Regions from separate parts of the Homo sapiens genome. Here regions 1, 2, 4, 5 and 6 are each reported to be linked to region 3. Evidence: microRNA targets listed by miRTarBase, many of them from high-throughput screens and not tested one by one. Region 3 holds a microRNA gene; each other region holds the end of a gene's coding sequence.

Evidence for each region. Region 3 holds the annotated microRNA hsa-miR-8052 (CGGGACUGUAGAGGGCAUGAGC, at 2,223-2,244, opposite strand). A microRNA usually pairs through its seed, bases 2 to 8, with sites in the 3' UTR of a target mRNA and lowers its output. Matches are read on the target gene's strand: a 7mer-m8 pairs with bases 2 to 8, a 7mer-A1 pairs with bases 2 to 7 and ends in A, and an 8mer does both.
Region 1: miRTarBase lists TLR10 as a target of hsa-miR-8052. Seed matches in the 3' UTR shown: 7mer-A1 at 1,100-1,106.
Region 2: miRTarBase lists SLC25A33 as a target of hsa-miR-8052. Seed matches in the 3' UTR shown: 7mer-A1 at 1,324-1,330.
Region 4: the mRNA of NUCB1 is a reported target of hsa-miR-8052. Seed matches in the 3' UTR shown: 8mer at 1,313-1,320.
Region 5: miRTarBase lists ZNF563 as a target of hsa-miR-8052. Seed matches in the 3' UTR shown: 7mer-A1 at 2,555-2,561.
Region 6: the mRNA of ADAP2 is a reported target of hsa-miR-8052. Seed matches in the 3' UTR shown: 7mer-A1 at 1,514-1,520.

Annotation. Positions count from the first base shown.
Region 1 is chr4:38,770,534-38,773,860 of GRCh38, reverse strand. It overlaps TLR10 (toll like receptor 10), which reads left to right. Exons shown (of 4, transcript NM_030956.4): 4 at 1-1,623. The coding sequence ends at 706. Among named protein-coding and RNA genes, the nearest start is that of TLR10, 11 kb to the left of the region's middle.
Region 2 is chr1:9,582,204-9,585,203 of GRCh38, reverse strand. SLC25A33 (solute carrier family 25 member 33) reads right to left here. Exons shown (of 7, transcript NM_032315.3): 7 at 31-2,905. The coding sequence ends at 2,703. Among named protein-coding and RNA genes, the nearest start is that of TMEM201, 5.2 kb to the left of the region's middle.
Region 3 is chr11:130,665,662-130,668,988 of GRCh38, reverse strand. MIR8052 (microRNA 8052) reads right to left here and starts at 2,254; the gene lies at 2,186-2,254.
Region 4 is chr19:48,921,858-48,924,857 of GRCh38, forward strand. NUCB1 (nucleobindin 1) reads left to right here. Exons shown (of 13, transcript NM_006184.6): 12 at 1-75; 13 at 461-1,515. The coding sequence ends at 567. Among named protein-coding and RNA genes, the nearest start is that of NUCB1-AS1, 4.5 kb to the left of the region's middle. RefSeq lists an enhancer at 879-1,378.
Region 5 is chr19:12,315,581-12,318,907 of GRCh38, forward strand. It overlaps ZNF563 (zinc finger protein 563), which reads right to left. Exons shown (of 4, transcript NM_145276.3): 4 at 1,897-3,327. The coding sequence ends at 3,014. Among named protein-coding and RNA genes, the nearest start is that of ZNF563, 16 kb to the right of the region's middle.
Region 6 is chr17:30,957,255-30,960,581 of GRCh38, forward strand. It overlaps ADAP2 (ArfGAP with dual PH domains 2), which reads left to right. Exons shown (of 11, transcript NM_018404.3): 11 at 581-2,068. The coding sequence ends at 615. It also overlaps a transcript of RNF135 not described here and the pseudogene RN7SL138P. Among named protein-coding and RNA genes, the nearest start is that of RNF135, 12 kb to the right of the region's middle. RefSeq lists enhancers at 1-9, 593-1,092 and a silencer at 3,219-3,268.

The DNA of each region.
Region 1 (3,327 bases), not on the chromosome of region 3:
TCTGTTGATTGTCACCATTGTGGTTATTATGCTAGTTCTGGGGTTGGCTGTGGCCTTCTGCTGTCTCCACTTTGATCTGCCCTGGTATCTCAGGATGCTAGGTCAATGCACACAAACATGGCACAGGGTTAGGAAAACAACCCAAGAACAACTCAAGAGAAATGTCCGATTCCACGCATTTATTTCATACAGTGAACATGATTCTCTGTGGGTGAAGAATGAATTGATCCCCAATCTAGAGAAGGAAGATGGTTCTATCTTGATTTGCCTTTATGAAAGCTACTTTGACCCTGGCAAAAGCATTAGTGAAAATATTGTAAGCTTCATTGAGAAAAGCTATAAGTCCATCTTTGTTTTGTCTCCCAACTTTGTCCAGAATGAGTGGTGCCATTATGAATTCTACTTTGCCCACCACAATCTCTTCCATGAAAATTCTGATCATATAATTCTTATCTTACTGGAACCCATTCCATTCTATTGCATTCCCACCAGGTATCATAAACTGAAAGCTCTCCTGGAAAAAAAAGCATACTTGGAATGGCCCAAGGATAGGCGTAAATGTGGGCTTTTCTGGGCAAACCTTCGAGCTGCTATTAATGTTAATGTATTAGCCACCAGAGAAATGTATGAACTGCAGACATTCACAGAGTTAAATGAAGAGTCTCGAGGTTCTACAATCTCTCTGATGAGAACAGATTGTCTATAAAATCCCACAGTCCTTGGGAAGTTGGGGACCACATACACTGTTGGGATGTACATTGATACAACCTTTATGATGGCAATTTGACAATATTTATTAAAATAAAAAATGGTTATTCCCTTCATATCAGTTTCTAGAAGGATTTCTAAGAATGTATCCTATAGAAACACCTTCACAAGTTTATAAGGGCTTATGGAAAAAGGTGTTCATCCCAGGATTGTTTATAATCATGAAAAATGTGGCCAGGTGCAGTGGCTCACTCTTGTAATCCCAGCACTATGGGAGGCCAAGGTGGGTGACCCACGAGGTCAAGAGATGGAGACCATCCTGGCCAACATGGTGAAACCCTGTCTCTACTAAAAATACAAAAATTAGCTGGGCGTGATGGTGCACGCCTGTAGTCCCAGCTACTTGGGAGGCTGAGGCAGGAGAATCGCTTGAACCCGGGAGGTGGCAGTTGCAGTGAGCTGAGATCGAGCCACTGCACTCCAGCCTGGTGACAGAGCGAGACTCCATCTCAAAAAAAAGAAAAAAAAAAAAGAAAAAAATGGAAAACATCCTCATGGCCACAAAATAAGGTCTAATTCAATAAATTATAGTACATTAATGTAATATAATATTACATGCCACTAAAAAGAATAAGGTAGCTGTATATTTCCTGGTATGGAAAAAACATATTAATATGTTATAAACTATTAGGTTGGTGCAAAACTAATTGTGGTTTTTGCCATTGAAATGGCATTGAAATAAAAGTGTAAAGAAATCTATACCAGATGTAGTAACAGTGGTTTGGGTCTGGGAGGTTGGATTACAGGGAGCATTTGATTTCTATGTTGTGTATTTCTATAATGTTTGAATTGTTTAGAATGAATCTGTATTTCTTTTATAAGTAGAAAAAAAATAAAGATAGTTTTTACAGCCTACACATCCTACTCATTTGGCTTGATTCTTCTTTCTGGTCTCACAGGTCACAGGAAGAAAAGCACTCCTGAAATATAATTTTTGCAAAATTATATTTCAAAAATGACAATTTTGCAAAATTATATTTCAAAAACAAACATCATGTCACTTCTCTGGTTAGAAAAAAATTTTGTGGCTTAAACACATGATTCAGGGAGAGAATGTCATGCTCCTTTAAGATCTGACAGCAATCTCCTTTTATATCCTTGCATCTTCTTTATTTTTAATTTTTAGAGACTAGCTCTTGCTCTGTCACCCAGGCTGGAATGCAGTGGTGCGATCATAGCTCACTGCAGTATTGAGCTCCTGGCCTCAAATGATCCTCCTGTCTTGGACTCCCGAAGTGCTGGGATTACAGGTGTGAGCCACCACACCCAGCCCCTCCTTGCATCCTATCATTGGGCCCTATGGAGCTACTGGCCCTTCCCCAGAACTTTCAGTGTTCTTTCATGGCTCCAGAGCCCAGATTTCACATCATGCCTGCTGTAATGCCTTCCCTACTTGGGTTTGTTCAGGAAATCTTACAGTTCTCTCAGGACACAATCCACATATCGACTCTTCTTTGAAATCATCCTCACTCTTTCCCGTAAGCATGATGCTTCTTGATTCTCTTCCACACTTTGGACATATTTCTATCACCAACCTAATTATGTACATTTTTAAAGTTTCAATTTCCCACTAGACTATGAACTCCTCAAAGGCTAAGACAGACTTACATCTGCCCTTGTGTCTGCAGCAGTCCCTGGTTCAGAACTGGTGCTCAAAGAATGTTTATGGAATGGATGTTGGGTTGGCTAGAGGAGCTTAGTGGGAACTCAACTGGCTTAAGGATAGATGGTGGAATTTAAAGGCATATTCTGAGAAGCTCAGGAAGAGCAGGAATAGGTAAAACTCAGGTAAGAAGACAGAGAATCCAGAATTGTAGGATTCCTAAGTAGAGCTCACGTCATGTGAAATTGCCAAAATTTGGTTGCTCTCGACCTAGAAAAGCATCTACTTTTAAAAATCTCATTCCATCTGTATTAGGGTTCTCTAGAGGGACAGAACTAATAGGATATATATATATATATATATATCACACAATACTATATCTATATCTATATCTATATCTATATATATATATTGCAAGGTCTATTGTGGGACCTTGTAATTGTGTGGGTCAACACTCCTTAATAAACTCCTATATATATAGGAGGTACATATATATATAAAATAGGATATTACATATAGGATATATATATAAAATAGGATATATATATAAAATAGGATATATATATAATAGGATATATATAGGAGCTATATAGGATATATATACAAATATATATAAAGTATATATAAATATATATACTTTATATATATAATAGGATATTATATATATATAGGATATATATAATAGGATATTATATATATATAGGATATATATAATAGGATATTATATATATAGGATATATATAATAGGAGATATATATATAATAGGAGATATATATATATAATAGGAGATATATATATATATGAGCTTATTAAGGAGTATTGACACACACAATTACAAGGTCCCACGGTAGACCATCTGCAAGCTGAGGAGCAAGGAAGCCAGTCCAAGTCCCAAAGCTGAAGAACTTGGAGTGCAATGTTTGAGGGCAGGAAGCATCCAGCATGGGTGAAAGATG
Region 2 (3,000 bases), not on the chromosome of region 3:
GGCAGGAGAAGCAGAAAACTAAAATTATAATTGGTTACTATCAAATTTATTCATTCAAGAAGGAGTGAAAACAAAGCAATTTTACACCTTCATATTAGACACAATCTTGGAAAACAGGTTTTAATATGGATATAGGAGGATGTTGCTAAGTGCCATCATCGAATATGAATATTAAAATAGGAATGTGAATATTAAAATTAGATGTTACTCTGTAATTCCAGTGCTTTGGGAGGCTGAGGAGGTAAGATCGCTTCTGGCCAGTAGTCTGAGACCAGCCTGGACAACATAGCAAAACCTCGTCTGCACAAAAAATGAAAAAACATTAGCTGGGCATGGTGGTACTTTCCTGTGGTCCAAGCTACTTGGGAGGCTGAGATGCGAGGATCCCTTGTGCCCAGGAGTTTGAGGTTACAGTGAGCTATGATCTTGCCACTGTATCCAGCTTCAGTGATCGAGTGATACCTTGTCTCAAAACAACAATAACAACAAAGGAAGGGGCGGCGCGGGCCAGGTATGGTGGCTCCCTCCTGTAATCCCAGTACTTTGGGAGGCCGAGGCGGGTAGATCACCTGAGGTCAAGAGTTTGAGACCAGCCTGGCCAACATGGTGAAACCCCATCTCTACTAAAAATACAAAATTAGCCAGGTGTGGTGGCGCATGCCTGTAGTCCCAGCTACTCAGGAGGCTAAGACAGGAGAATTGCTTGAAACCGGGAGGTGGAGGCTGTAGTGAGCCGAGATTGTGCCACTGCACTCCAGCCTGGGAGAGACAGAGCGAGACTCCATCTCAAAACAAAACAAAACAAAACTTCTGGAATAGCATTACTGTCATGTATTGTAAAGTACAGAAGCTTCACTAAAGTCACTCATTTTGACTTCTACGTAGTTGTTGGAGCAATTACACTAGAGTCAAGAACCCCAGTTAAAAGTAAACTCAATTTAAAATAACTTGGAAATATCCTCCTCTTAACCCTACCAGGGTGTCTGCAAGTAAACCTGAAACTACAGTGCATAGGTATTAGAAATGAGTATCTTTCTAGACGTTCAAATTGAAAACCAACCTTCATGTACAATATACTCAAATTCCAGTGAAAGAGCTAATGGAAGACTAGGGGTTTTACTTGCCTTCTTCTTAGTATCATCTTTTTGTTCCCTTATTAAATTTGCTTTAAAACCAAGGGGGTAACATCCTGGTTTTTTTTTTTTTTTTGAGATGGAGTCGCACTCTGTGGCCCAGGCTGGAGTGCAGTGGCGCCATCTCAGCTCACTGCAAGCTCCGCCTCCCAGGTTCACGCCATTCTCCTGCCTCAGCCTCCCGAGTAGCTGGGACTATGGGTGCCCGCCACCACGCATGGCCAATTTTTTTGTATTTTTTTAGTAGAGACGGGGTTTCACCGTGTTAGCCAGGATGGTCTCGATCTCCTGACCTCGTGATCTGCCCGCCTTGGCCTCCCAAAGTGCTGGGATTAAATTTTTTTTTTTTTTAATGTTGAACTAGGATATTTAAACAATCCCAGTGCTTTCTATCAGAATGTGAGCTCTCTGACGGGTGAGCCATAGTCCTACGTTGTGCTCCTTTTCTGCAAGAGCAGAGGTCCAAGAACAGGGCTAAAGACCTCAGTGGGAATGACTGTTCTTCATCACATTCTGGATTCACAGCCAAACAGGGTAGCTGTGCTGTCAACACACTTAACAAGGCAACTGGTCTTAACTTCCGGAACTATATCCAGGAGCCAGGCCATTGATAAAACAGTTCTTTAAAAATTCTTGCCTTTGGTTCAAAGTAGGGAGAAAAGGATAACTTCAGGAAGTTTTTTATAGCTTAAAATATTGAGTCTCAGAAAGTTATATATATTCATCTCAGCAGTCTGAACGCTTAGATGATCAATCTGCAAGTAATTGGAAATGTACAAAGAAGAAAAATTGCTGGGAAGTTTGTCCTGGTCCACACACCACCACCAAAATGTGACACAATTTTTTTTTTTTTGAGATGGAGTCTCACTCTGTCGACCAGGCTGGAGTGAAGTGACGTGATCTCAGCTCGCTGCAACCTCTGCCCCCTGGGTTTCAAGTGATTCTCCTGCCTCAGCCTCCCAAGTAGCTGGGATTACAGGCACACGTCCGGCTAATTTTTGTATTTTTAGTAGAGACAGGGTTTCGCCATGTTGGCCAGGCTGGTCTGGAACTCCTGACTTCACGTGATCCATCTGCCTCGGCCTCCCAAAGTGCTGGGATTACGGGCGTGAGCCACAGTGCCCAGCCAAAATGCGACACTTCTTCCCTGTCTAGCAGTGCAAGATCTTAAAGTCAGATTATAAAACAAGTTGTATTCTCACTTTATCATTTTTCTCTGCAGTTCTAGGGCAGGTTTATCTGAATTACTTAAGTCCTTCATAGTATAGTGAGCATAAAAGAGGACACAAGCCAAATGTATACTTAAATTAAATAGCATGATTTAATTTAGTTGGTGCTTAACCCTGAATCCTCTTAAGTTAAAAAAAAAGTTATAATTAACTATTAACGTTAATGAATTTAAACCTTCCAGAAAGCATGAATCCAAAAGGAAATGTCCAACAGGTGATATGAACCAGATATTTTATGGCCTTTCCTGTTTCAGTCTCAAACTTTCTAAACATCAATGGGGAAAAAAAATTCTCTAGAGTTTTTCAGTTTTATTCTTCTAGAGCACAATTTTCCGGCCTGTTACTGAGTACGGTCTTCTAACAGGTACACAATTAACTCATAAGTAGACAACACAATGGCAGTATTTGGGATCTGCCGGATAAGCTGGGCAAACAGTCCTCTATAAAAGGCAAGGTAGCCTTCTTCCCGGAACACCAGGCGCGCCGTCTGGACAAAAGACTTGTACTTGGTGCCCTCTTCCCGGAGCCTCGTCCTTATGACTTCTGCAGAGAGAGAAAGACCTACTTTACGCCACATATTAAATGGGGAACGAATCCACAGCACACAACTTTAAAACTGTCAAGGTTAGGCCGGGTGC
Region 3 (3,327 bases):
CACTGCAGCCTCCACCCCCTGGGGAACCATTAAAATGTTTTAAACAAGGGAGTGACTTGACCACATGGCATGTTTTAAAAAGCTATCTCCACGGCTCCAGTATGCTGACTGCAGACCAGAAGTCCAACTAGGAGGGTCCTGAAGCAATTTGGGGTGCCTGTGATTATTGAATAAAGGAACAGCATTGGGGATTCAGAGACAAGAATAGACTCAAGGGACATTTAGAAATTACTATCCATAGAACCTGGTTATTGATTGGACATCACATATAAAGGAGAAGCTAGAGTCAAAAACCACACTTAAGTTTGTAGCTTGGATACCTGAGTTTTTGGTGGTGATTCCTCTAAGATAGAAGACAAAATGGAGGAATTCAGCCTGGGTGGAAAGATGCTGAACTCAATTTTGGACATATTGAGCCTCACAATCTTGTGAGACATTCACATAAAGGTGTTGAGTGTCTGGTTGGATTCATGTGTGTGATGCTCAGAAGAACATCTTGGGCTGAATACTTAGATTTGTGAGTAATCAATACACAGAAAGAAATTCAAGCCATTACAATAAATAAAATGGCCTGCCTGAGATACAGAATGAAACGTTGGCCTAAGAGAAGATATCTAAAAGATTGTCATGAATCAATAAGAAAATGACAATAAACCCAATAAAATGTGCAAAATACATTTTTAAAATATTTCACACAAGAAGAAAACCATAAAAAAAAGCATGAAAAGATTCTTCACTGCCCTACTAGTCAAGGGTACGCAATTGCATTTCCACAATGAGATAGTTTTTATGCCACTAGATTGACAAAAATTAATATCTGACAATGTCAAATAAGGATTTGAAAAGGTTTATACTTTACTGGTGAGATTGTATAATTGCTTTGGAAAACATTTCAGCATTATCTTGTGAAGCATACCACATAATTCTACTCCTAGGTATCCACCCTAGAGAAACTCTTGAATATGTGCACCAGGAGACATATTCAAAAGTGACTTCAGGACCTTTGTTCATAATAGTACAATACTAAAGGCAACCTAAAGAGTCAACAGCAGAGAATGGATAAGGGGCAATGTATCCATGAAAAGTATCATAATAAAGCAGTAGAAAAAAATGAATTGCACACATGTGTGAGAACATTAAGGAATCTTAGAAACATGATGTTGAATGGAAAAGGAAAGAACCCAGAAGACTTTGATTTATTCAGTTGGTGCGAACGTAATTGCAAAAACCTCATTACGTTTGCATCAACCTAATAGATATTATTTTAATAAACCTAAAAATAAGCAAAACTGGGCAAAATATTATTTACATATGCATGCATTTGGGATAAAACAAAACAAAAAATCAAAAGAATAATTCTAAAATTCAGGATAGTGGTTCTCTCTGTGCGGAAAAGAAAAGCAGGACACAGAAGGAGGTTAGGAGCAGAAGTGAGGGTGGATACGAGTTACTGGGAATGGACTTGTCCTTTGCTTGACTGCTGGGTTCAGAAATGTTCATCATACTATATTTTGTAACTTACACATATTATAAATAGTCTCAAATAGCATACTAAAATTAATACAAAAAATGAAAAAAATCGCACTTAGAGTTACAATTTTTTTCATCCTAATTAAGACAGACTTCTGGATTTAAGGACTGCATGAGTTTACTCTTTTGTTAAAATTGCTTTTACCAAAATTTTAGGACTTTAACTTCCTCCCTAGGTGGAAATATATGGCCCAACCACAGGACACACCAAGGACCATGGAGTGTGCATTTTGGGGTAATAAATTACCCTTGGCTTCCTTTTACTCACTGTATTTCCCATCACTCTGACTCATTCAATTATTTATTTCCACTCATTTGTATTGTGTGCATTTGTATAAGCCACCTCAGATTCTTTGTAGAATGAGGTGCAAGTATTCAAAATTAAAACATTCTACCCCATGAGGGTAGAAAAAAAACCTCAAAATTCTGTCATACTTTTTCCCATTTATGGCAGGAAATGCAGAAAAGTGGCCAATTCCTTTCCTCCAGATGGCAGGCTGCGGCTAAAAGTCTAACAGCACTCCCTGACAGCCTGGAGGTGGCCAGAAAAGCCACACACAGGCTGCAAGAGAGGATGTGTGGCCCACCAAGCCCTGGCACTCTGGATTCTCAGCCAGAGTCTTAATTAAATCAGATACCATTTTGAGAAGGCTTCCAGAGGCCTTGCACCATGAGCTGGCCTGAGCTCCTGAGCTCATGCCCTCTACAGTCCCGCAGCCCTCCAGACCAGGGAGACAAGGGATCTCCTACGGCTGGCACCCTCCTTCATTACCCACAGATGCCCAGTTGTGCCTGTCCCACAGAATAATAATAGGCCACTCTATCCAAAGTTGCCATATCCAATGAGATACAACCCAATTGCCAGGGAAGCTGCTCCTGCCTGCATTGTACCTAATTTGTTGGCCACAGGAAGGGTTTTCTGCATCCCAGAGAAGGTCAGGATCATTAGTTTCTGACTCTATATCAGTGTAGTAAAACTTAAAGAAGTCATAGTTCCAGTCCTGATTTAGCTTGGCTGGATCCCCACCCACCCAGTCCAAGGGGACTCCAGAAAATAAACTAGGCATTTATACCCACTGTTGAGGAAGAATCTGCTTCAAGCCACAAGGTGAGGGCTGGAGAAGCTTCCATTAGCCATTATTCGCCAGCCATGGTATCCCTAATCACACAGATGGCTATGACCCATAAGTCTCTTTAATAACACTGTCCACTGTTTCCCATGAGATGTCTACCATCAGATTGCCTATAAGAATAGTTTCAGATGAAGAAGGAGGAGGAAGAAGAGAAAGAGAAAGAAAAAGAGGAAAAGGAAGAGGAGGAGGAGGAGGGGGAGGAAAAGGAAGACGAGGAGGGACAGGAAGAGGAGGAAGAACTACATATCCTCACATGATGTGTATGGCTGTGAGATTGACGCATTCCACAAGCTCTGCACCTACACCAATATATTAAAATCACACTGGAGCGGGGACCTCCGCAGATCCTCCTTCTCCCTGTATAAGCCCCAGTGAACTTCGTAATTTTTTTTAAGTTGGAGGGACAAAAGAAGTTGCCTCTTCCAGGCATATTCAGATCTCAAGATAGTCATCATTCTTTACCACCACCTCTTCCTACAATCTCTTGAACCAGCTCTGTGCAGGATGAGCCTTTATGAAATTCATGCTCAGAGGCACCCACAACTTTGTCTCTAGAAAAATGATGAGTGGAGGATGGGCTTCTAAATGTGCTCAACTCATTTTGAATGCACAAGAAAGCCATTTGGCCCATGTGACATCTCAGCTATCTTCCAGAACTTACTGA
Region 4 (3,000 bases), not on the chromosome of region 3:
AGCAGCAGCAGCAGCAAGGCCACAAGGCCCCGGCTGCCCACCCTGAGGGGCAGCTCAAGTTCCACCCAGACACAGGTGCTGGCCCTAGTCCAGGGAGGAGGGGCTGCAGGGCTGGACCCCTGGGTCTGAGGTTGGAGGGGCTGGGCCTGGACTCCCAGATCTGAGGGAAGAGGGACTGGGGGCCCAGACTCCCAGATCTGAGGGAAGAGGGACTGGGGGTCCGGACTCCTGGGTCTGAGGGAGGAGGGGCTGGGGGCTGGGACCCCTGGGTGTGAGGGAGGAGGGGCTGGGACCCCTGGGTGTGAGTGAGGAGGGGCTGGGGGCTGGACCCCTGGGTGTGAGGGAGGAGGGGCTGGGGGCTGGACCCCTGGGTGTGAGGGAGGAGGGGCTGGGCCTCTGGGGTCCTGGGGGAGGAGGGGTTCGGATGTCCTGTGCCACCATTCCCTCCCTCCATTTCCAGACGATGTACCTGTCCCAGCTCCAGCCGGTGACCAGAAGGAGGTGGACACTTCAGAAAAGAAACTTCTCGAGCGGCTCCCTGAGGTTGAGGTGCCCCAGCATCTGTGATCCTCCGGGACCCCAGCCCTCAGGATTCCTGATGCTCCAAGGCGACTGATGGGCGCTGGATGAAGTGGCACAGTCAGCTTCCCTGGGGGCTGGTGTCATGTTGGGCTCCTGGGGCGGGGGCACGGCCTGGCATTTCACGCATTGCTGCCACCCCAGGTCCACCTGTCTCCACTTTCACAGCCTCCAAGTCTGTGGCTCTTCCCTTCTGTCCTCCGAGGGGCTTGCCTTCTCTCGTGTCCAGTGAGGTGCTCAGTGATCGGCTTAACTTAGAGAAGCCCGCCCCCTCCCCTTCTCCGTCTGTCCCAAGAGGGTCTGCTCTGAGCCTGCGTTCCTAGGTGGCTCGGCCTCAGCTGCCTGGGTTGTGGCCGCCCTAGCATCCTGTATGCCCACAGCTACTGGAATCCCCGCTGCTGCTCCGGGCCAAGCTTCTGGTTGATTAATGAGGGCATGGGGTGGTCCCTCAAGACCTTCCCCTACCTTTTGTGGAACCAGTGATGCCTCAAAGACAGTGTCCCCTCCACAGCTGGGTGCCAGGGGCAGGGGATCCTCAGTATAGCCGGTGAACCCTGATACCAGGAGCCTGGGCCTCCCTGAACCCCTGGCTTCCAGCCATCTCATCGCCAGCCTCCTCCTGGACCTCTTGGCCCCCAGCCCCTTCCCCACACAGCCCCAGAAGGGTCCCAGAGCTGACCCCACTCCAGGACCTAGGCCCAGCCCCTCAGCCTCATCTGGAGCCCCTGAAGACCAGTCCCACCCACCTTTCTGGCCTCATCTGACACTGCTCCGCATCCTGCTGTGTGTCCTGTTCCATGTTCCGGTTCCATCCAAATACACTTTCTGGAACAAATGCATGGCTCCATGCCTGTGTATCTGGACTGGTCCCTCCAAAACGCTATTGCCACGTCACCTGCCGGAGTCCTCATCTTTGAAGACTGGATTCAAGCATCACTTCTGAGAGGCTCAATCCTGGTATTTTTCCATCTGCCCCTGATGAGTCTGCAGCCTTCACTCAGGGTCCCTTCAGCCACAAGGACAGAAAACCCAAACCTGGGATTAAGCAATTTTTTTTTTTTTTTTTTTTGAGATGGAGTCTTACTCTGTCACCCAGGCTGGAGGGCAGTGGTGTAATCTCAGCTCACTGCAACCTCTGCCTTTTGGGATCAAGCGATTCTCCTGCCTCCGCCTCCCGAGTAGCTGGGATTACAGCTGCCTGCCACCACGCCCGGCCTTCTAATTTTTGCATTGTTTTAGTAGTGATGGGGGTTTCACCATATTGGCCAGGCTGGTCTTGAACTCCTGACATCATGATCTGCCCACCTTAGCCTCCCAAAGTGCTGGGATTACAGGAGTGAGCCACTGCACCTGGCCGGGATTAAGCAACTTTTAAAAGATGAATTTGGCCAGGTGCTGTGGCTCACGCCTGTAATCCCAACACTTCGAAAGGCCAAGATAGGGGGGATCACTTGAGGCCAGGAGTTCAAGACCAGCCTGGTCAACATGGCAAAACCCCATCTCTACTAAAAATACAAAGATGAGCCGGGTGTGGTGGTGGGCACTTGTAATCCCAGCTACTCGGGAGGCTGAGGCAAGAGAATTGCTTGATCCTGGGAGGCGGAGGTTGCAGCGAGCCAAGATTGCACCACTGCACTCCAACCGGAGTACCAGAGCAAGATTCCATCTCAAAAAAAAAAAAAAGAATGTACCAGGTATGGTGGCTCCACCTGTAGTCCCAGCACTTTAGAAGGCAGAGGCGGATAGATCACGAGGTCAGGAGATGGAGACCATCCCGGCTAACACGGTGAAACCCTTTCTCTACTAAAAATACTAAAAAAATTAGCTGGGCGTGGTGGCAGGCACCTGTAGTCCCAGCTACTCAGGAGGCTGAGGCAGGAGAATTGCTTGAACCCAGGAGGCAGAGGTTGCAGTGAGCCGAGATCATGCCACTGCACTCCAGCCTGGGTGACAGAGCGAGACTCTGTCTGAAAAAAAGAAGGCTGAGGCAAGAGGATCACTTGAGCTTAGGAGTTTGAGACCAGCCTGGGCAACATAGCGAGACCCCGTCTCAGAAAAAGAAAAAAAATTAGCTGGGCATGGTAGTGTGTGCCTGTAGTCTCAGCTGCTTAGGAGGCTGGTGTGGGAGGATCCCTTGAGCCCTGGAGTTTGAGGCTGCAGTGAGCCATGATCTATCACTCCACTGCACTCCAGGCTGGGTGACAGAATGAGGCCCTGTCTCTAATAGAAAAAAGAATAAATAAAAATGAATTATGATAAAAACCAAGATGTCCCAAGGCAGGATGACTTCAGGGAACCAGGTTCTCGCATCCCCTAGCTGTGCCAAGGATAGGTTTGGGGGCTGGACCCCCCCTCATGGTCCCAAGGTAGCTGCAGCTGCTCCAGATGTCACCAACAGCCAGTGAAGGAAGAGGCCGCATT
Region 5 (3,327 bases), not on the chromosome of region 3:
TACTTGGGAGGCTGAGGCATGAGAATCGCTTGAACCCAGGAGGCAGTGTTTGCAGTGAGCCGAGATCGTGCCACTGCACTCCAGCCTGGGTGACAGAGTGAGACTCAGTCTCAATAAATAAATAAAGAGGCAGTGCCATAAGTGGTGGCTCATGCCTGTAATCCCAGCATTCTGAGAGGCCAAGGCAGGCAGATCACTTGAAGTCACAGGGAGTTCAAAACCAGCTTGGCAAACATGGCGAAACCCTGTCTCTACTAAAAATACAAAAATTAGCTGGGCATGGTGGTGCATGCCTGTATTCCCAGCTACTTGGGTGGCTGAGGCAGGAGGATCACTTGAACTTGGGAGGTGGAGGTTGCAGTGAGCTGAGATTGTAATCCCAGCTCCTCAGGTGGCTGATGCAGGAGGATCACTTGAACCTGGGAGGTGGAGGCTGCAGTGAGCTGAGATTGCACCACTGCACTTCAGCCTCAGCGACAGAGTGAGACTCTGTCTGAAAAAAAAAAAAAGAAGCAGTGCTATAGATTTTGATACTTGAAAAATCTGAAGGCTGGGTGTGGTGGCTCACCCTGTAATCCTAGTAATTTGGGAGGCCAAGGCAGGCAGATCTCTTGATTCCAGGAGTTCAAGACCAGCCTGGGAAACATGGTGAAACCTTGTCTCCACAAAAAACACAAAAAGTAGCCAGGCATCGTGATGTGTGCCTATAATCCCAGCTACTTGGGAGGCTGAGGTGGGAAGATCACTTGAGCCCAGGAAGTTGAGGCTGCAGTGAGCCATGCACTGTAGGGTGACAGAGTGAGATCTTGTCTTAAAAAAAAAAAAAAAGAAAAGAAAAAGAAAAAAAAAGAAAAATTGGAAGCAGTTTTAGGGCACCTACAGCTTCTACAAGGCGCAAGTGTTAAAGATTATCATCCTCAATTAAGATTCTTCCATGGAACAAAGCCTCCATGTCACCCCAGAGATTACATGCTCACAAACGTTGCAAAGTTTAAAAAAAAAAAAACTAGCTTCCTACAATGTTTCTAATTAAATATCTGCAAATATGAAGACAGCCTTCAATGCTTAAAGATCTTCAGTCCTCAAATTGAACAGATTCTGACATTAGTATTATTTAGACTGCTCCAAAAATTCAGTATCTGCAGTCAGAATCTGTTTCTTCCAATATAGTTGATCATGTTGACATCCTGTCAAGATTCGAGTTAGCCTGAGGTCTCACTGCTTATCTGTGGTGTCACACATCTAGCTGACTCAACACATCACAACATTAGGCACGATATTGCAATAATCATCATTACACTTTTGTTGGGTGAATGTTAACACATTTTCAGGTCATTAAACAAAAGCAATCTATGAGTGTTGAAAGAAAAGATTTATAATGCTCTAGGTGACATGTATTATGTGGGTGGGTCTGTACTGAATATGTGTAGGGTCTTTCTCATATCATGATTCACTAAACAATATAATAACAACTATTTACATAGCTTCTATGATGCATGATGTATTTTAACTAATCTACAGATGATTTAGAGTATACAGGAGGATGTGGGTAGGTTACATGCAAATATTTTTTATTGTTATTATTTTTTTGAGACAGGGTCTCATTCTGTTGCCCATGCTAGAATGCAGTGATGTGATTTTGACTCACCGCAACCTCAACCTCCCAGGCTCAAGCGATCCTCCCACCTCAGCTTCCCTAGTAGCTGGGACTACAGGTACATGTCACCACACCTGGCTAATTTGTGTATCTTCTGTAGAGACAGGGTTTTGCCACATTACCCAGGCTGGCCTCTAACTCCTGGGCTCAAGTGATCCACCTGTCTTGGGCTCCTAAGGTGCTAGGATTACAGAGGTGAGCAACTGTGTCTAACCCAAATATGTCTTTTCTTTCTTTCCTTTTTTTTTTTTTTTGTGTGTGTGACAGAGGTTGTTTTGCTCTTGCTGCCCAGGCTGGAGTGCAGTGGCGCGATCTTGGCTCACCGCAACCTCCGCCTCCCGGATTCAAGTGATTATCCTGCCTCAGCCTCCTGAGTAGCTGGGATTACAGGCATGTGCCATCACATCCGGGTAATTTTGTACCAAATATGTCATTTTTAAAAAAGGACTTGGCATGTGTCGATTTATGTATGCCCAGGGGGTGGTAGAACCACGCTCCTGCAAATATTAGGGGATAACTGTATTTGAAAGAAACTGAGGCTTAAAATTAAGGCTTTACTATGTGTTTACATTCATAGGGTTTATCTCCAATGAGAATTATTTCTATCTGAAATGAAATAACATTAAAGAATACTTCCCTACATTTCACACATTTATAGAGTATCTCTCCAGTGAGTCCTTTTATGTCTATGCAAGGACCTGAGAGAACTCAATGCTTTTCTACATTTCTTACATTCATATGACTTCTCTCCAGAGTGAATCCTTTCATGTACTTTTTTTTTTTTTTTGAGACAGGGTCTGGCTCTGTCGCCCAGGCTGGGGTGCAGTGCATCTTGGCTCACTGCAACCCCCACCCCTTGGGCTCAAGAGATCTTCCCACCTCAGCCTCCCAAGTAGCTGGGACTACAGGGGCATACCACCACACCTGCTACTTTTTCTATTTTTTGTAGAGACATGGTTTCACCATTTTGCCCAGGCAGGCCTCAAATTCCTGAGGTCAAGCAATTTGCCCACCCTAAGTGCTGGGATTACAGGCGTGAGCCACTGTGCCCAGCCTCATGTACTTTTAAGTTACCAAAATGACTGAAGGCTTCCCTACATATTTTACACTCACAGAGTTTTTCTGCTCTGTGAGTTGTTTTATGTTGACAATGGTGTTAAAAAAAAATCGATCACTTTCCCACATTCCTTATATCATACAGCATCTCTCCAGTGTGAGATATTTCATGATTTTGAAAGGAATAAAAATTATGAAAGGCTTTCCCACATTTACATTTATAGGGTTTCTGTCCAGTGTAAGTTTATTCATGATATCAAAGGGAACTGGAAATATAGAAGGCTTTATAATAGTTTACATTCATATTGTTTCTCTCCAGTGAGTCTTTTCATGTCTTTGACATACACTGGGATAAACAAAGGCTTTCCCACATACCTTGCATTTATTCGGCCCATCTCCCGTATGCATTACCATATGTCTTCGAAAGCTTGAGCTATGAGATAACGCTTTCCCACACTGCTTGCATTCATAGGGTTTCTCTCCACTGTGAGACTTTTCGTGTCTTTGACATACACTAGGATAAACAAAAGCTTTCCCACATATCTTGCATTTATGAGGTCCACCTCCAGTGTGCATTATCATGTGTCTTCGAAAGCTTGAGCTATGAGATAACG
Region 6 (3,327 bases), not on the chromosome of region 3:
AGCTGGTGCTTTCTTTTCTCTGTGGGCTGCCATTTATGAATCTCTTGGTTTCTCTCTGTCTCTGTCCCTCCACTTTTCTCTCCTTTGCTGGTGTGTGCATTCCCTCTGACGCCCTGGCTCTCACTCTTTCATTCTGTTTTTTATTCTGGCTCCCTCTGTCTTTGTGTTTTTTTTTTTAATTTTCTTTTTTTGAGGTGGGGTCTTGCACTGTCACCCAGGCTGGAGTGCAGTGGTGCGATCTCAGCTCACTGCAACCTCTTCTTCCTGGGCTCAGGCAATCCTCTCACCTCAGCCTCCCAAGTAGCTGGGACTACAGGCTCGTGACACCACATCTAGCTAATTTGTTTTGTATTTTTGGTAGAGACAGAGTTTCACCATGTTGCTCAGGCTGGTCTCGAACTCCTGAGCTCAAGTGATCCACCTGCCTCGGCCTCCCAAAGTGCTGGGATTACAGGCATGAGCCACTGTGCCCGGCCATGGCTCCCTCTGTCTTTGTACGCCTGTCCCTTTGCTGTCCCTCTCCTCCACAGGACAGCATTGGCATGGCCACCTCCCTCAGCCCTCTTCATTTCCCTTGCAGCTGCATCAACAGAGAGTGGCCGCAGCAGCAGGTGACCCATTAACTGAGGAACTGGCTGCCACTGAACACCTGGAACTCCTTGTGGGAAGAAGTTTGCACCTCGGCCCTGGCTGCCCACCATCAGTGCCCCGCAGTCAGCAGCCATTCCTGGCAGTGAACTCTGCCAGGACTGAAGCTGTGGCTTTATCCATCAGCTCCCTGGGCCTTCCCCGCAACCCACCTCGGGGATCTGAGGATCTGGTGCATAGATGAACATCTATCCCCTCCTCCCCCATACACACCTAGGCTTGAAATGCCCTACAGGCCCAGAACTTTCTCACATCTGAAATGGAGGCATTGCAATGAAAAGGCACCCACAGCATCATGCAAGTGGCATCTTGTAAAAAAAAAAAAAAAGTTTAATCTGAATCTAACCATGAGGAAATAATCAGACAAATCCACATTAGGGGCATTCTGCTAAACATCTGACCCAGACTCTTCAAAAATGAAGAGTGAAAGATAAAGTAGTCAATGGCCGGGCGCAGTGAGATTGCGCCATTGCATTCCAGCCTGGGTGACAGAGCGAGACTCCGTATCAGAAAGAAAAAGAGGAACTGAATGAAATCTCAGATGGCTGAAATGTTAGAGAAACAGAGCACCAAGTCCCCTGCTCTGTGACTCGTTGTTCCTTTCCTCTGTCTTCAAGCACCACGCAGAAATACACTGGATGTTCTCTCTTTGCTTCAATGGAGACCCAAGGAGCTGGGAGGTCTCTTAAGAGACTCTCTGATTCTCCGTGGCTGGGTGTGATGGCTCATGCCCATAATCCCAGCCCTTTGGGAAGCTGAGGCAGGAGGATTGAGACCAGGAGTTCGAGAAGAGCCTGGGCAACATAGTGAGACCCCATCTCTACAAAGAAAAAAAAATTAGCTGGACATGGTAATGAATGCCTGTAGTCCCAGCTACTCCGGACACTGATGTGAGAGGATCACTTGAGCCAGGGAGGTCATGGCTACAGTGACCCCTCATTGCACCACTTTACTTAGCCTGGGTGACAGAGTGAGACCCTATCTCAAAAAAAAAAAAAATCTATGCATTGTATGGGACTTTCCTTTGGATCCCCCAATCAAAGGATAAGCAATGCGTAAGCCTGTGTCCTTCCTGAAGCTTCTCGACTGCCCAGATAGGGAGGTGAGTCCTCTCTATCTCCTCTGGCTCTGGAAGCACCTTGAAAATGTGCATTTTCAAGGACACTTGCTGGGTTGTGCATTAAGGGCCAGTTTACTTGTCTGCCTCTTTGACCACCTGTGAACTCTGTTGGGTGTACTCTGCTAAGTTCTGGGGATGAGGAAATTAATAAAGGTACAGTCTTGCCTTCAAGGAACTTATGGTCTAGAGGAGAAGAACGAGAAGTATAGATAGGCAGTAACAAAGCTACTTGAAGAGGCCAACTGGGATTCTAAGGGTGGGAAAGAACAGACACAAGAGATAAAGTCCTAATGAAATGGAGTGCTTGGTTTTGGATGATTCCTTCCTCAAGGAAGAGTATGCTTCTATACTCTTATATTAAATCCCTTTTTCCCTTTTTGGCTTGTTAGTGCAAGGAAGTTTCTATTACTTGAATCAGTCCTGACAGATAAAGTTCTCTAAAAGAGATGATACCTATGCTGAATCCTGAAGAAAGAGTAGAAGATAGTTGGGTTGGGGTGGGAGGAGGCAGAGAAAGAAGCATGTGTAAAGGCTCAGAGATATCAGGTGTGCACGTGCCTGTAGTCCTAGCTACTGGGGAGGGTGAGGTGGGAAGATCATTTGAGCCCAGGAGTTCTGGGCTTTAGTGCACAATGCTAATTGGGTGTCCACACTAAATTTGGCATCAACATGGTGACCTCCCAGGAGTGAGGAATCACCAGTTTGCCTAAGGAGGGGTGAACTGGCCCAGATCAGAAATGAAGCACTTCCGTGCTGGTCAGTAGAGGGATCATGCCTGTGAACAGCCATTGCACTGCAGCCTGGGCGACAAGAGGGAAACTCCGTCTAAAAAAAGAAAATAGCTAGGCATGGGCACTGTAATGCATGCCTGTAGTCCCAGCTACTCAGGAGGCAGAGGTGGGAGGCTTGCTTGGGCCTGGGGGGTTATGCACTCCAGCCTGGGTGACAGAGTGAGACTCCGTCTCCAAAAAAAAAAAAAAGAAAAAGAAAAGAAAATTTGAATCACACTTCACTTGTATTAGCGTTCTCCAGAGAAACAGAACCAATGATATACATATATATATATATGGCTATAGAAAGAAATTTATTGGCCGGGCACGGTGGCTCACGCCTATAATCCTAGCACTTTGGGAGGCCGAGGCAGGCAGATCATGAGGTCAGGAGATCAAGACCATCCTGGCCAACATGGTGAAACCCCGTCTCTACTAAAAATACAAAAATTAGCTGACTGTGGTGGCACGTGCCTGTAGTCCCAGCTACTCAGGAAGCTGAGGCAGGAGAATCGCTTGAACCCGGCAGGCGGAGGTTGCAGTGAACCAAGATTGCGCCACTGCACTCCAGCCTGGCGACAGAGTGAGACTCCGTCTCAAAAAAAGAAAAAGAAAAAGAAAAAAAAAAAAGCCAGGCATGGTGGCATGTGCCTGTAGTCCCAGCTACTCAAGGCTGAACTCCCACTTAAGCCTGAGATTTCAAGACTGCAGTGAGCTATGGTCTCACCACTGCACTCCAGCCTGGGTGACAGAGTGAGACTCTGCTTCAGCAAAGAACAGTTATGTCAC